Linked DNA regions of Homo sapiens: region 2 is linked to region 1. The links come from fine-mapping of genetic effects on gene expression. A gene starts in region 1. The other region holds a variant in brackets. All regions are shown on one strand. Distances are between the middles of the regions.

Region 1 (4,395 bases):
TTGAGACATTTGGGATTAGTATTGTTTGGTAACTGAACCCATTCCTTTTTTTTTTTTGAGGTGGGGTCTTGCCCAGGCTGGAGTGCAGTGGTGTGATCTCAGCTCACTGCAACCTTCACTTCCCAGGTACAGGCGATGTTCCCGCCTCAGCCTCCTGAGTAGCTTGGACCATAAGTGCATGCCACCATGCCCGGCTAATTTTTGTTTTTGTTTTTTTCTTGGTAGAGACGGGATTTTGCCATGTTGCACAGGCTGGTTTTGAACTCCTGGCCTCAAGCCATCTGCCCGCCTTGGCCTCCTAAAGTGCTGGGATTATAGGCGTGAGCCACCACACCTGTTCTGAACCCATTTCTTTGGTGCTTTTTGGATGGGTTTGTTGTATTATATATGGTTAGATATCTTTTCTAGCAGTATTTTTTTCCCCTGTAACCATTGATTGACTGCTCTTGGATGTTCTGAGAGACAATATCCAAAGTCCCAATTAATAATTGTGACTCCCTCACGCACAGTCTGTAGAAGGCCCAGAGTGACAGGGAGGCAAACTCAAAGGCCTCTGGTGGCCAGAAGGGGTGTGGAAACCTGCACACATTGCATGGATGGTGGGGACTGGAGGAGCAGGACATGCTCTATCAGGGGGCAGCTGGCTCTTTGGCTGCAGCTGGTTGTCGTGTCACATGGGAGCGTCAGTTCATGATGCCAGTTCTTTTGTTTTTAAGAGAGCCAGAAATCTAGATTTCTACGTGAATTTTCTCATTTAGAAAAAGTTCATAAACTTGATTTAAGTTTATAAAACATCCTGTTAGCCAAACAAAACACGTAGGCATATGGCCTCTGGACTAATCAGGAGTAGCTGGGCCTACTGCCCCTCAGGTCTGGGGGTAGCTGCGGGATTTCTTTCCTTGGGGCTGTGCACATGGCTGTGTTAAGCTTACAGGGGAAACTGTTGGGGCGACAACTGTTGTCAAATCATTCCACTTTCTTTTTTTCTTTTCTTTTTTTTTTTTTGAGACAGGGTCTTGCTCTGTCACCCAGGCTAGAGTGCAGTGGTGCAATCTCGGCTCACCGCAATCTCCACCTCCTGGGTTCAAGAGATCCTCCCACCTCAGCCTCCCCAGTAGCTGGGACTACAGTCACGTGCCACCACACCTGGCTAATTTTTGTATTTTTAGTAGAGACGGGGTCTTCACTATGTTGATCACGCTGGTCTCAAACTCCTGACCTCAGGTGATCCACCAGCCTCAGCCTCCCAGAGTGCTGGGATTACAGGTGTGGGCCGCCACGCCCAGCCAAATCATCCCACTTTCTATTCATCCTTTCATTTGGCAAACCTGAAGTGAATACTATTTCCTCCCACTCTTTTAGGAGCCCATCTCTTGCTTTTAATGTAAAATATGCATAATTTGTGTTTTAAGATTACCATCAGTTTCATGAAGAGCTTAATTTTTCCCATGGATGAAGTGTAAGTGGGTACCTGATAATATATCGTGAGCTTAACATTTTCCAAACCCTGTTTCTTGGCCCTAAATCTGCCCCCTTCCTTCCACCTCCCAAGTGGAATTGACATCTTTGCTTCAGCTGCAGGAATCTGACCTTGCAACAGGCTCTGGATAAGCCCTATTAGAACAGCCAGAGGTAGAGAGACCAGGAGTGGCTGCTCTTGTGTAATCCCATACAAGTGTCAGTATCTGTTGCCAAATACTGAAAAGGAAGCCAGTTCCAGCTGATTACCATAAAACTTTCCCAGCACTTGTGGCTTGGGAGGCGGAGGAAGCAGGACAGCCTGATAAATGTGTAGAAAGGATGCATGAGAGATCCACCCTTGTAAGGTGAGGTGGTCTAATATGTTGACTATCTGCACAGGTGAGCCTTTTTATAGAAAGCAAAAAATATCTGGAGACAACTTTGCTTGCATCTCTACACAAATTTCATGTTAAAATGAAATCCAGAAAAAACCTCGGTCAGAAGATGCAGTGCTTCTGGCCTAAGGCTTTTCAGATTTCAGTTTATCCTCCCAACCCCACCCCCCAGGAGCACAGAGTTTGTTTGCTGTTCTGGTGAAGCTAAACAGTAGTTGGACAGTTGACTTCATTGGAAAACGATATTATTTTGAAATGAGGCTTGGTTTCCTCGGTCAGTGACCTGCTTAGAGAGAAGCGGTGGGTCTGCACCTGGATTTTGGAGTCCCAGTGCTGCTGCAGCTCTGAGCATTCCCACGTCACCAGAGAAGCCGGTGGGCAATGAGATCATGTCTGCTTTCAGGTTGTGGCCTGGCCTGCTGATCATGTTGGGTTCTCTCTGCCATAGAGGTTCACCGTGTGGCCTTTCAACACACGTAGAAATAGGTAAGTACTGGTGTCTTGTTATGTTGTTGAGAGGACAATACATCTGTCAAAGACATTAAGGAAGAGACTGAAAATCCCGCTCGTGGATTGATACAGTTTCCCCTGGGCACTGAGCTGAGTGGCCTGACAGCAGGGAGGAGAAGCCGGTGATTGCAGTCATCCAGGGATAGGGATTGGCAGCATGACTTCAGTTAAGGGGCAAATAAGAAAGAGAGCTGATGCCCCATTGGTCATGGGACCCCTGTGTGTTTCTCTGGGTGGGGAAATAGTGAGAGGCTCAGTGAACGAGAGGTTGCAACGTGGCAGCAGAACTGACAGAATGGGAGAGGAACAAGATGGGTGGAATATGGCAGGAGTGAGAAATGTACTTTTGTTGTTTTTACATGTCCAAGGACAGGCATTTCCAAGTATATGTAAAGAGCCATATGTGGCCATGGGAGTGGGTCCCTGAGTCAAATTGCTGTAAAAGTGCTTGGCTTCAGGAAGGTCAAGAAAGTAAGGGAGTTTAGTTATCCACATGCACGGTGCCAGGAAGATGGCAGGAGTTGGAGAGCAGAAGGGTACAGCAAGCCAGTGCCACCGACCTTAGGGGCAAGGGCAGAGTCATCCTGGATATAGGGAGATGGCACCACAAAGAGTTATTTAAAATTTTTATTTTTCTAGCTTTATTGATGTATAATTGACAAAAATTGTATAAATTTAAGATATACAACATGATGTGTTGATATATGTATGCCTTGTGAAATGATTAGCACAATCAAGCTAATTAACACATCCGCCCCCCCCACATAGCTACCATGTTTTTTGCATATGGGCTGAGAACACTTAAGATCTTTCTTAGCAAAAGGATTTGGTTCTTGTATGAAGTGTATTTGTAACATGTTTTAACGCATGGAAAACGTGAGTCAATTTGTAATAGAATTAGCTGTGATAACATTCTACAGCAATTTTCAGATTAATTTCAGATATACCTGATGTTCTGAGTTTTCTTTTTTTTTTTTTTGAGACGGAGTCTCGCTCTGTCCGCCATGCTGGAGTGCAGTGGCGCAATCTCGGCTCACTGCAAGCTCCGCCTCCTGGGTTCACACCATTCTCCTGCCTCAACCTCCCGAGTAGCTGGGACTACAGGTGCCCGCCACCACGCCTGGCTAATTTTTTTGTATTTTTTTTTAGTAGAGATGGGGTTTCACCATGTTAGCCAGGATGATCTCGATCTCCTGACCTTGCGATCCGCCTGCCTCGGCCTCCCAAAGTGCTGGGATTACAGGCGTGAGCCATCGCGCCTGGCCTGAGTTTTCTTTAATTTAGATAAAAATTATAACAGAATTTTATAGTTGTACCACCTCCAGAAGTTTCAAAGAATAATAAGATTATAGGCAAAAAATGAAAATTTATCAGTGCAAAATAGACATATATACTGAGCTACGATGGGCAAGAACCTGTTATCACAGAATTTGACTATCTGAAAGGACACTAGAAGTCACCGAGTCCAGTTCTCTTCTTTTACAGATGAAGAAACTGATACTAGACAGTTTTACAGCTAAGTTTTCAGTGGCCTGGCCTAGAATTACATGTCCTGACAGCTGGTCCGGCGTTCTTTCCATTAAAAATGTACTGCTAGAAGGGAGTCAGGAAACAATGGAAAAGAGGATCAGACTTAGGTTCTAGTTCCAGCCATCCAGTAAAGTAGATGTGTGATTCTGAGCAATTCACTTTTTACCTACCTCTCAATTCTATAAAATGAGGGGGTTGAACTTCTTAAAGAATTCTAAAGTGTCTTGCAGTTCTATGTTCTGTGAAGTTGAAATTGCCAAAACTACAGAGTAAGCTGATGAGGAACAAATATAAATGGAAATACTCCATTTTTAATCCTTAGTGTTTAAAAATTTACAAGACAGATTGCATCTGAAATTTTAATAAAACCAGATAATTGCTTGCCCTTCTTCATTAAGTACCAAACAAAGGTCCTAATGGACATTTAAAGAATAATATTTATGTGAACATAATTGAAGGCATCTCCTGAAATAGAATCTGCACGGATTCTGAGAATTTT
Region 2 (4,395 bases), 52 kb before region 1:
TCAGAAAAAAAGAAAAAAAAATGCAGATTGAGGTATAATTCACTTACAGTAAACTGCACATAATACAATTTGATGCTTTGATATGTGTGCACATCTGTGAAACCATGACCACAATCAAGCTGTTGAACAAACATAATTACCCATAAAAGTTTCCTCGTGGCTCTTTGTAATCCCCCTCTCCCCTGGCAATCACTAGAGATTAGCTTGAATTTTCTGGAGTTTCATATATGGTAGTACTGTATGGAGCTTTCCCCTCAAACAGGTAGTAGTTCCTTCCTTTCCAGGCTGTTTTAACTCACTCCATTAGCAACTGTGAACAGAAGTTCTCTGAAAAGGAATTTGAAGGAAAGAGACTTTATTGCCGTGAACAGTTTCCAAACCACAGAGTTATGGTCTTCTGTGTAAAACAAAGATGGGTTTCAAAAAACAAAGCAAGCGTTCTGGATTTATAGCAAAATTCTACCCAGGTTTCCAATCAGGTCCATATGTAAATGAAGGATTGAAACTTGCATAGTTCTGATTGGTCAGTGTAGCTCAGTTTGGGTTGGTTGATACAGATGACGCCTGGTTGGTTGATACATCTGAGTCCTGATTGGTTAAGGCAGGTGAGCTCTGATTGACTGGTTCAGGTGAACTCTGGAGTTCCCAAACTGAACAAAGGTGTGGGTTTTGGGGGGAACTCAGTACATGTGTGTGACATCTAGTTAACAAATGCTCACTTAGGTGTTTTTTGTTTGTTTGAGACAGGGTCTTGCTCTGTCACTCAGGCTGGAGTGCAGTGGCACCATCACGGCTCACTGCAGTGTGGACCTCCCAGGCTCAAGTGATCCTCCCACCTCTCAGCTTCCTGAGTAGGTGGGACTACAGGTGTGGACTAATTTTTTGTAGAGATGGGGGAGTCTCACTATGCTCTCCAGGCTGGTCTCAAAAATTCCTGGCTCAAGTGATCCACCTCCCTCTGCCTCCCAAAGTGCTGGGATTACTGATGTGAGCTACAGTGCCAGGTCCCACTTAGGTCTATTTTAAATTTAGGCCTAGTTAACCAATGGGGATTTATCTTAAAGGATTGGCTCTTTCAAGTTCATATTTGTTCACATAATTTTGTTGAGATAAATGCTTGTTGAAGTATGAGAATGGGAATGGGGTATTGTAGTTAAACTAATTACGTGGCTCCTGGATCATCTTCAATCCTGTAAGAGTTGTGTATTTACTGAGAGAGCAAATACTAGGCTAAGTAAAGGAACAAAATCTTTATAATTTCAACAAGGATGACTTTCCATTACTGAAACTAAAGGAATTTTTATTTTATTTTTTTTCAGACAGTCTTGCTCTGTTGCTCAGGCTGGAGCGCAGTGGTGCAATCTCGCTTACTACAACCTCTGCCTCCTGGCAGTTCAAGTGATTCTTGTGCCTCAGCCTCCTGAGTAGCTGGGATTACAGATGTGTGTTACCACACTCAGCTACTTTTTATATTTTTAGTAGCGACGGAGTTTCGCCATGTTGGCAAGGCTAGTCTCGAACTCCTGGCCTCAAATGACCCGCCCGCCTCAGCCTCCCAAAGTACTGGGACTACAGGCATGGGCCACCATGACCAGCCAGAAAATAAAGGCATTTAAAAAAATATTCCTTCAGTGTTGTGGGCTAAATTATTATTTTTGAGATGGAGTCTCACTCTGTCACCCAGGCTGGAGTGCAGTGGCATGATCTTGGCTCACTGCAACCTCTTCCTCCCCAGTTCAAGCGATTCTCCTGCCTCAGCCTCCCAGGTAGCTAGGATTACAGGCGCCCACCACCATGACGGGCTAATTTTTGTATTTTTAGTAGAAATGGAGTTTCGCCATGTTGGCCAGGCCGGTCTCAAACTGCTGACCTCAAATGATCCACCAGCCTCGGCCTACCAAAGTGCTGGGATTACTGGCGTGAGCCACTGCGCCCAGCTGACTAAATTAATCGTGTTATGTCAAAATTCATAGGTTGAAGCTCTAACCCCCAGTACCTGAAATGTATTTGGAGATAGAGCCTTTAAAGAGATGTGATTAATTAAGTTAAAATGAGTAAAATGAGGCCATTAAGATGGGTCCTAATCCAATCGACTGGTTTTCTTATTAGAAGAAGAGATTAGGACCTGCAGAGAGACATCTGGGGCACGCAGGCACAGAGGAAAGATCATGGGAGGACATGGCAAGAAGGCGGCCATCTACAAGCCAAGATGAGAGGCGTCAGGAGAAACCAAACCTGCCGACACCTTGATCTCGGTCTTCTGAGAATTCATTGAGCGATTCACTTATTCAATTATGTATCCTTTTTTTTTGCA[T/C]GTATATAATAGTGAAAGGAAAGTTTAAAAAAGCTACCAATCTTGCCAAGTTACTTTCAAAGTCATTTATGAAGAGGTACTGCCAGGGATTTCCTAGGTAGAGATGAAACAGTTCTGTATCTTGATTCAGGTGCTGCCTACACAAATCTAACTATTGATGTGATCAAATTAGGTAGAGGTGTACAAACACTCACATACAAATGAGTGCACATAAAAACGAGTGAAATTGGAATAAGGCCTGGATTAACAGTTTTGCACTGGTATCAGTTTCCTGGTTTTGATAATTGTATTACATAGGTAATAAGCGAACCACTGGGTGAAGGGTACACGGGACTCTGCATTATCTTTGCAACTTCCTATGAATTTATAATTATTTCAAAATTAAAAGTTTAAAGATGTTGAGAAGGAAAGGCCAGATCCACATATCAACAGTAAAATAAGCATTTCCATTAAAATCAGGAACAAAGTTAAGAAAGGAAAAAAAAAAAAAGAAACAAAGTCACCATTTCTCCAACTAATTGGTCCCTAGAGCCTCTCTTGTTGAGTTGAGATTAGCAAGCAGCAAAGCTTCCTTTATTTGAAGCCTACATGGAGAGTATTATCACCTCCATTCTCCTAAAGATGATGAACCCAGAGTTGCAGGACTGAGACTTTATTGCAGCAGGAAGAGAGCACATAGGCTTATACGGTCATGCCTGGCATAGTGAAATTTCTGTCAGTGATGGACTGCATATATGATTTATGGACCCATGAGATAATGGAGCTGAAAAGTTCCTGTCACCTAGTGATGTCGTAGCCATCATAAAGTCCAATGCAGCCCAATGCATTAATCATGTTTGTGGTGATGCTGGTGTAAACAAACCTGCATTCTCAGTTGTATAAGAGTATAGCACATACAATTATGTACAGTATATAATAAGTGACTATGCTACTGGTTTACGTATTTATTATACTGTACTTTTCATTGTTATTTTACAGTGTACTCCTTCTACTTATTAAAAACAGTTTATTGTAAAACAGTATGTGGCTGGGTGCAGTAGCCCACTCCTGTAACCCCAGCACTTTGGGAGGCTGAGGCTGGAGGATTGCTTGAGCCCAGGAGTTTGAGACCAGCCTGGACAACATGGTGAGACTCCATCTCTATAAAAAACATGTTTAAAAGTTAGCTGGGTGTGGTGGCGAATGCCTGTAGTCTCAGCTACTCAGGAGGCTGGGGTAGGAGGATCTCTTGAGCCCAGGAGGTCAAGGCTGCAGTGAGCTGTGATGGTGCCGGTGCACTCCAGCCTAAATTACAGAGTGAGACCCTGTCTCAAAAACAAAACAAAACAAAACAAAAGAAATACTGGGTTATACCAGCAGTATAAACGTGTCTTGTTTACTGTGCCTCTTGATTGCATTATTTTCTCTTGTGCTTCAATTAATCTCGTGTTGCTTTGTTCATCACGGTCCCTTTGTCATAGAAAATCCACGGCTATTGTTGCCAGTAAGAGGCCACATCAAGTGACTGATCTTGAAACAAGAGATTAAGGATTACCAACCAATGGGTAAAGGAGTTACAGCAGCTTTTAAGGCCCACTGCCTGAGGAGGAGCAGCTTTGCTCAGGTTATTACTGCAACAAAGGAAGACACGGAGAAGACGCTGATGCAATTCTGAAAGGATTACATCTACGACTCCATCAGGACCCTTGCTTGGGCTTGGGGTGATGTTACCAAGGAACGTATAAATGACATCTGGAAGAAGACACTCAAGAGGTTCATCCGTGATTTCAAAGGATTTGCCAAGGACAAGGAGGTTGCAAAAACCAACAAGGCTGTGGTTGAGATGGCAAACAATTTTAACCTGGGGGTGGAAGAAGAAGACATTGAGGAGCTCCTACAGGTGGTTCCTGAGGAACTGACTAATGAGGAGTTGTTGGAACTGGAACAGGAACACATACCTCAAGAAGAGGCAAGGAAGAAAAAACTGCAGAAGAAAAAGAATCCCCATGAAAATTCACAGTGAAGAGCTGAGAAGTTTTTGCAGACCTCAGTAAGCGCCTTAAAAATTCTGAAAACATGGGCCCCTCAACACCAAAAGGGTT

Alleles and levels. Alleles are on the strand shown, and positions count from the first base shown. SD is a standard deviation of normalised expression in the study named.
With allele C in place of T in region 2, the expression in subcutaneous fat of the gene that starts at base 2,179 in region 1 is higher (small effect, 0.25 SD a copy in FUSION).

Evidence for each region. PIP is the estimated chance that this variant, and not a neighbour inherited with it, causes the effect.
Region 2: its variant is the best candidate, but not a certain one, in a credible set for the expression of GPLD1 in subcutaneous fat (FUSION, PIP 0.87).

The regions. Positions count from the first base shown.
Region 1 is chr6:24,487,362-24,491,756 of GRCh38, reverse strand. It overlaps GPLD1 (glycosylphosphatidylinositol specific phospholipase D1), which reads left to right and starts at 2,179. Exons shown (of 25, transcript NM_001503.4): 1 at 2,179-2,342. The coding sequence starts at 2,246.
Region 2 is chr6:24,539,060-24,543,454 of GRCh38, reverse strand. It overlaps LOC124901277 (a long non-coding RNA gene), which reads left to right and starts at 3,403. Exons shown (of 2, transcript XR_007059507.1): 1 at 3,403-3,440; 2 at 3,775-4,395. It also overlaps a transcript of KIAA0319 not described here. RefSeq lists an enhancer at 3,689-4,395. The variant T/C (reference allele first, on the strand shown) is at 2,315.